Regions from separate parts of the Homo sapiens genome. Here region 1 is reported to be linked to region 2. Evidence: microRNA targets listed by miRTarBase, many of them from high-throughput screens and not tested one by one. Region 2 holds a microRNA gene; the other region holds the end of a gene's coding sequence.

What was found. Region 2 holds the annotated microRNA hsa-miR-335-3p (UUUUUCAUUAUUGCUCCUGACC, at 2,075-2,096, opposite strand). A microRNA usually pairs through its seed, bases 2 to 8, with sites in the 3' UTR of a target mRNA and lowers its output. Matches are read on the target gene's strand: a 7mer-m8 pairs with bases 2 to 8, a 7mer-A1 pairs with bases 2 to 7 and ends in A, and an 8mer does both.
Region 1: miRTarBase lists GLIPR1L2 as a target of hsa-miR-335-3p. Seed matches in the 3' UTR shown: 7mer-A1 at 678-684 and 7mer-m8 at 1,399-1,405.

The regions. Positions count from the first base shown.
Region 1 is chr12:75,430,742-75,434,741 of GRCh38, forward strand. GLIPR1L2 (GLIPR1 like 2) reads left to right here. Exons shown (of 6, transcript NM_001270396.2): 6 at 83-1,947. The coding sequence ends at 420. Among named protein-coding and RNA genes, the nearest start is that of GLIPR1L2, 42 kb to the left of the region's middle.
Region 2 is chr7:130,494,106-130,498,257 of GRCh38, reverse strand. It overlaps MIR335 (microRNA 335), which reads right to left and starts at 2,147; the gene lies at 2,054-2,147. It overlaps MEST (mesoderm specific transcript), which reads right to left. Exons shown (of 12, transcript NM_002402.4): 2 at 2,736-2,890; 3 at 1,023-1,102; 4 at 245-322; 5 at 1-119.

The DNA.
Region 1 (4,000 bases), not on the chromosome of region 2:
GTATGTATTGTTGTCCTTTATTTCTTGAACAATTGAACTGCTTTATATGAAATCCAGCTTTCAATTGCTTCTTTGTTTACAGATTACCGATTTTGGTATCCAAAATGGGAAATGCCCCGGCCAGTTGTGTGTGATCCACTGTGCACATTCATTTTATTATTGAGAATATTATGTTTTATCCTGTGTGTCATAACTGTTTTGATAGTACAGTCTCAGTTTCCAAATATCTTGTTGGAACAACAAATGATATTTACCCCTGAGGAATCTGAAGCAGGGAATGAAGAGGAGGAAAAAGAGGAAGAGAAGAAAGAGAAAGAGGAAATGGAAATGGAAATAATGGAAATGGAGGAGGAAAAAGAAGAGAGAGAGGAGGAGGAGGAGGAAACACAAAAAGAAAAGATGGAGGAAGAGGAAAAATAAGAGTAGAAAGAGGAGGAAAAAGATGTATCACCAATATAAACCAAAAGTGTAATACAAAAAAAGACAGAAAAAAAAAAAAAGTAAAACACTGAGTTTTAACAAGAAAGAAAATATGCAAACCACCATTGGAATGTTTTTTATTCCCTTCTCTCCTATACTTATTCAATCAATTTAAATTTGTAAAACAAAGAAACAAAAAACATGTAAGGTGGGCTCTTTGACACTAAGAACAGATAAAGACATGACAGGAAAAACACTGAAAAACATTTGACCAGTCTAATTAATCTTAAGATTTCACCATGTTATTCTAATAAAGTAGGGAATTTTCATTTTCTAAACATGTTTCCATCTCTGTGTTTTAAATAGTAAGGTGCTTAAGATCATTCCAAGTTCATAACAACCATTGAATAAAATTTGTATTTTTTTGTTTTTACTGTTACTGTCATAGTTTTTATTGGTGGTAGTGGTATTTTCATGTGATATTAAGGTATCTAATATTATTATTTGTCTTTGTGGTTTTTGGAATAGTTTAAGTGGTACCTGTACATCCTGCTAGGATGCAAACTTATTATTTATAATTAATGTTCAATATTTCATTAAAGACTTGCTGTAATTTTCTGCCACCAAGGGCTAATAAATGCCATAATTTTAATTAGTTGTGGTAGAGGAATCTGGGTGCTTCCAAATTTATATGATAAAATAAATAAATTTTTTAAAAACTATTAACTTGTTATTCAATAGGTATAGTAAAAGTTAACAGATTAATAAGATAACTGCTTACCACTAGTAATACTAATAAATGAACTAAATAAAAATACCTAGCATAGGAGATTTCTTTATCTATAAAATAAATGGATAGCACTAGATGACCACTAAGACCTCTTCCATCAATGAATATTCATGGATCAACTTTGTAAAGGAATCAATAGTAGTTGTGAAGTACACTAAGCAAACACCTGAGGGAAAAACTTGATTCCCATGAAAATATTCCTGAACTCAGCACCTTATATGGCAAAATAATAAATACCTTTTATTACTCAATTTTAAAATAGGCAAAAAGCAATGTATAATATTTTTCCAATTGCCATTCCATACTCAGCTGTCTTATTGTTGCACACTTATTAGAACTCAATGTGACTGAGATGTGAAAGGTTGATATAATTCTATTTATGACAGGGACTTAGGGAACTTATTCTAATTGAGAATCAGAGGCTTAATAAACCTGAAGGTTTAAGTGAAAGAAATGACATTGAAAGAATCACTGCATATCTGATGTTTTCAAATAAAACAATCTCTGTTTTCTGGTTTTGATAGAATATTGTGTTCTAAAGCTATATTTCTCAATGTGTGGTTCCACTGAGGGAAAGAAAAAAAAAAAAACCTAGCATAGCCAAATACCTCAAATGGTATAAATGCTATGTGTATTTACTCTGTTGTTCTTTAGTTGTATCAATATTCTGTTAAAAACCTGTTCGAAGTAGGGCAAGATGAGAATTATATTAAAAAGCCCTGAGCTATCCTCTTGGATTTGAATGTTTCTGTTTGGTTTGTTTCCTTTGCTTTGTTTTTTTTTTCAAAGAGCTCCTGTTTGTAGAAATTAGATATTTTTCTATCTATGAAGTCAGCCTCTGTTCCACCAGTCCCCTGAGAAAAAGCCTTAGGTAGAGAAAAGGGCTAGTTCTCTACAGTGACGTTATTTATTATTATTATTGTACATTTGTGTTGTATTTCATAGCTTCCAAAGTCCTTTCATGTAAGTATTTGATATTCAAAACCATTCCTGTGGAGCTGGCATTGCTTCTATTTTTAAAATAAGAAAACTGACCTTGGATTTGTGAACATTTGATGCATTTACAAGTACAATTTCTTCATTTATTAATTCCCACACATGACTAACTTGTTATGTATCTGTATGCCTAACAGAACCTGGGCCTGGCCCAGGAAACCATTTTCTCCTAGGCCTCCAGGCCTGTGATGGGAGGGGCTCTGGTGAAAACTCTTGACACAGACTGGAGACATTTTCCCCATTGTCTTGGAGATTAACATTCATCTCCTCATTACTTATGCAAGTTTCTGCAGCCAGCTTCAATTTCTCCTCAGAAGATAGGTTTTTCTTTCTATCACGTTGACAGGCTGCAAATTTTCCAAACTTTTATGCTCTGTTTCTTTCATAAAACAACCCAAGTCACCTCTTGAAAGCTTTACTGCTTAGAAATTTCTTCCTCCATGTGAGAAATGGGAGTTCTTTTTCAAAGATTATAAAAAGTCACAATTTCTTACTATAAGATTGCTATATATATATAGTGGATTATATATATATATATAGTGGATTATATATATATAGTGGATTATTTATATATATATATATATAATGGATTTTATATATATATATAATGGATTATATATATATATTCCAAATCAGCTGTCCTAGCTTGCTCCGGCATGCCTGGACAGAAGTAGACAAGCCCCAGCCCATAGTGCATGCCACTCCTTATTTGGAGATGCTTCCTTAAGTATCCCTGGGCAACTTCCTTTTCTTTCTTTGTTCTATTCCCCTTACCTAATTAAGAAAGTTTTAAACTAATAACCAATCAGGTAAAGTGTAAAATGTGAGGTCCTATTCCAGCCAATGAAAACTGGACACAGCAGTAGGGTAGACATGTCAGGTTATAAATTACTCTGTCTCCTTTGTTTGGTGTGCTCTCGTGGCTGGATGGCTACTGAGTAGCACCCTTTCTGCAGAAAGTAAAGCTCACCTGGCTGAGAGATTGTTTGTTCCTGCATTCTTTTTTTTTTTTTTTTTCGACACCAAAAACTTCATTCCCAACATCCAGATGTCCTAAATGATCTCTCTCAAGTTCAAAGTTCCACAAATCTCTAGGGCAGGGGCAAAATGCCACCAGTCTCTTAGATAAAACATAGCAAGAGTCACCTTTACTCCAGTTCCCAACAAGTTCTTCAACCCCATCTGAGACCACCTCAGCCTGGACCTTATTGTTCATATCACTATCAGCATTTTGGTCAAAGCCATTCAAGAAGTCTCTAGGAAGTTCCAAACTTTCCCACATCTTCCTGTCTTCTTCTGAGCCTTCCAAATGGTTCCAACCTCTGCCTGTTACCCGGTTCCAAAGTCACTTCCACATTTTCAGGTATCTTTTCAGCAATGACTCATTCTAACTGGTACTAATTTACTGTATTAATCCATTTTCACGCCACTGATAAAGACCTACCCAAGACTGGGCATTTTACAAAAGAAAGAGATTTATTGGACTTACAGTTCCACCTGGCTGGAGGGGCCTCACAATCATGGCAGAAGGCAAGGAGGAGCAAGTCACATCTTGCATGGATGGCAGCAGGCAGAGAGAGAGCTTATGTAGAGAAACTCCCATTTTAAAAACCATCAGGTCTCATAAGACCCATTCACTATCACAAGAACAGCATGGGAAAGACCCACCCCCATGATTCAATCATCTCCTACTGCGTCCCTCCCACAACTCATGGGAATTATGGGAGCTACTGATGAGATTTGGGTAGCGATACAGAACCAAATCATATCACTACCCAAAGGAAAAGAAATAAT
Region 2 (4,152 bases):
GCAACAATATCTCCATAGTCATGAGAAAGAAGGTTGATCCTGCGGTTCTGGAGCCCCAGATGCCGCAAAAGCGCTTCCACGATGCTGGCCTGCTCAAATATGGAATAGTGATGTGGTCTCTGAGGAAAGGAAAGCCCACATACACAGGATGAAGTCATGAGGACAGCTCTCTCTGCCAGCCTGACCCTCATAGTCTGCGTCTGCCCCCACACCCCATCACCAGCCCCACATAGGTGCTGCTTACCGGTTTGTCACTGAAGCCAAAGCCTAAGAAATCAAGGGCAATCACCCGATGAAACCTCAAGGTCAGACCTTCCCAAATCTACAAGAAAGAAACGATGATTTGGGCTTTCTGCTCCTGCCCCTCCCTTTCACCAGACCTACAGTTGCACAGGAGCTTCAGCCCTATCTTGGCTTAACAGACTTCCATAAAGAGAAAACGCCATGAAACTACCACAGGTCCCACAGATGATCCTCTTGGAAAATGCTTTATTCCTGGTAATTAATCCCTGTTGAGGGAGGGTAACTTGGCAGTGATCCCTTCCAGAGTGCCAAGGAGTTGTTTATTCCCTTCAGTAAATAAGGAACAGTTCAACATTTAATGTTTTTTTAAAAGCAATTCAAATGTGCAAGAGCCTTCTGGTGCTGACAACAAAATCCTTGAGGTTTTTTAAATTTTTATTAAAAAAAAATTTTTTTTTGAGACAGACTCTCGCTCTGTCACCTAGGCTGAAGTGCAGTGGTGCAATCTCAGCTCACTGCAACCTCTGCCTCCCGGGTTCAAGCGATTCTCCTGCCTCAGCCTCCCAAGTAGCTGGGATTACAGGCTTGTGCCACCATGCCTGGCCAATTTTTATACTTTTAGTAGAGATGGGGTTTTGCCATGTTGGCCTGGCTGGTCTCAAACTCCTGACCTCAGGTCATCCTCCCACCTCAGCCTCCCAAAGTGCTAGGATTTGAGCCCCCGCGCCCGGCCGAGATTTTTTAAGACATAGTAGGACGTAGAAGTCTGACTTCATTACCTTGTACCAGTCGTAGCTGGATGTTGGAAAACCGTGTAAAAGCACAACTATCTCTGGACTTCCAACCACACCCACAGAGTCTAGGAAGAAGGAAAGTACAATCAATTATGCCAAATCCCTATAAAAATAACCTCGAAGATGTTAAAATCTAAGTAATCTGATACAAAGAACAAGCAACTGTGACCAAATTGACATTAAAATGACACAATTATTTGTAAAATGTAAGCTTAACTGCGTTAGGTGAGAACAGGCCTTTTCTCCTTTCAATCTGTATATTAAAACATTGTAAAAATCATGCTATGTGAAAATACTTGAAGGCACCTTGTTTACTTTCACCTAGGTGTTTTTAAACAGCATCTCCCCATTTCTCCTTTTGTTCTGTAATATGCAAATTTTTTCAGTGAAAAGTAAATTTTCAGTTAAAAGCATATGATCACAACACATAAACTACAAATTCTTTGTACTTTATCATGAATGGCCTCACAGAAATTCTCTAAGATACAGCAACTATTCCCAAGGAACACCTTTAGCTTATGCTGTTTGCTCAGCACTTTTTATTCAGCAGGAGACCCAATCTAACATCAAAAACATAATAAAACTATTACAAAATCCTGTCAACTATAAAAAGGGCTTAATCAACATAAACATGAACTTTTTTAATGCATATGACAATATGGAAGCATTCAGCATCATCTAAATTAGGTAAACATTTAGACAATATTAACCTTGCTAATAGTATGGGATTAGAACAGGTATATTCATATACTGCCAGTGACATGAAAATTTGGTAATAAGGTTTTCAAAAATAATTTAGAAGCAGTTAAAAATTGTATATACTTTAGCCTAAGAGTTTTGTTCTTGAGAATCTGTGCAAATAAAATCATTCCATTTATACAAGTAGTATAGTTTGAAAATGTAAGGAAAAAATAAACTGTATGGACATGAAGCTTTTACTTCAACATTAGTTTTCTAAAACAGTAAAACTGGAAGTAACCCAAGCCAACATAATAAAAATTGTATACTTACTTAATTGAATATAGCAAATGAGAGGAGGTCAGGAGCAATAATGAAAAACGGTTTATGACAAACATTTTTCGTTATTGCTCTTGACCCCCGCTCAAAACAAATCATTTCCAATCTGTTTCTCAGTTTCTTCACCTATAAAATGAGGTTAATGGCACCTATCTCCAAATGCTGTTGTAAAGATTAAACAATGAAGGCTGAAAACATAACTCAGTGCCTGGCATATGGTAATTACTTGATAAGTAGTGGTCATAATAATCATCATCACTAGCAAATTAATTTATATAATGGTATCAAGACTTAAATCACAGTTACACTACAAATAATCTACAGAAAAAATGAAATCAGGGATGGTAAGGAGAGAGAACCAATGGTGGTTATATCTATTAATATTTTATATATTACCTGACAGGTTGCTCAAAAAAAAAAAAAAACTAATATTGGAATACATATCAAGCTACAAAGAAAACTTATACTAAAAGGTAAGGTCTGCAGGTTGGAATCTCAGTCCCTACCCCCATTCTCCCAGCAGTTTTCTGCGCTTCTCTGCAAGCACACTACACAGAAAGAGAGAGAGATACTCTCCTCCATCATTAAGGAGCAACAAGAGACCAATAGCCACAAAATAAATACCTCAGCTGGGACTTATGTGACCGATACACGCAGGACTTCCAATAGTCCACTTCTTACCTTGGTAGAAGATACGCAGTCCCTTGTAAGTGAAAAACTTGCCTGAAGACTTCCATGAGTGAAGGGCAGGGGAGAGCTGAGGGGGTGGGATGTGCAGGTACGCAGCAAGCAGGGGCACGGCCAGCAGCCCCACCTGGACCCACCACTCCCTCATCCTGTAGGAAAAGCAGAGACCCACTGTAAGCAGTCAGGTAACATTGTCCACTCATCTACAAACCAAAACCTGGTAAGATGGGGTGGGAGATTGCTGTTACCATGCAATGATTACATTGCCCTTCACATAGGCACAAAGCTGACCGAGACTATAATCAAACCTCTGTCTGCCATAGCACTCACCATATTTGTTCATCATTCTAATCTTAAGGAAAAAAAATACATTATTTCAACATATAATCTTCTGCCTCTGCTCCCCGACTTTAACCCCTTAGCCCCTACCCTTGTGGTCTTCCCAATACCTGCTGAAGAGGACTTTATATAAATAAAAGGGACATGACTTAAATGCTGGACACTCTTTCGTTGACTTTTATCAAGGCTTCCCAGGAAAAAAATAACTTCTTTCTTATTTACTCCAAAAGCTCTACCATCTACCCACTACCCCCAACCAGTAAAATGTTCAAAAAATATATATGTGCTATATCTCATGTTTTAAAGAGTGTGTGTGTGTAGTAACTTATCACATGTCCTCAAGCAGAGAGCTACTCCTGATTTTCAGCCCTCCTGCCTAAATGAAGCCCCATTTAGTACTCCTTTCTGGATTTGGGCTGAGAAACTGCTCAGGGTAAACAGTCTGTGAAAGTAAGATAGCTGCACTGTGTATTCCAACATAAGCAGCTTTGTCATGACCCTGAATATCTAATCTCTTGAGAGGTCAAGGCGGTAGATTACATTTCTGCTTTTCTTAGCAGACTCTTTAAGTTTCCATTTAATTTCCTAAGATGCTCCCCCACCCCCAGATAAGGCATAACTCATACCCAGCGTGTGAGAATTGATTTTGTCTTTGGAAAAAGAGCACTGGTTGGTACACCCAACCCTCCCATGCCCAGGACTTCAAAGGCACAAGTCAGTTTATCCACATTGACAAGGAGTGCCAAACAGGAATTATAAACCGTTCTGTTTCAAGTCTATGACTTCTGATGGTCAACAGATCAAGAATTGTCAGTAGAATGGAAGTTCTCTCAAAACAGCCAGAATGGAAATAATACCCTCCAAAACTAAAATTAGAGTTGTCATAGAGCTGAAATAAATTAATTGCTAAAGCCCTGGGGGAAATGGCTTTCCGTCTGTACACACATTCTTCCCTATTGCCTGTAATCTACCTACCCGTTCGCTAACTTCCTCAACTTACAAGATACTTTTCCCCCCCATATCCCTGATACTTTTTGCTAAAATCTAAAAACAAGCCTGTGGTTTTACAGTG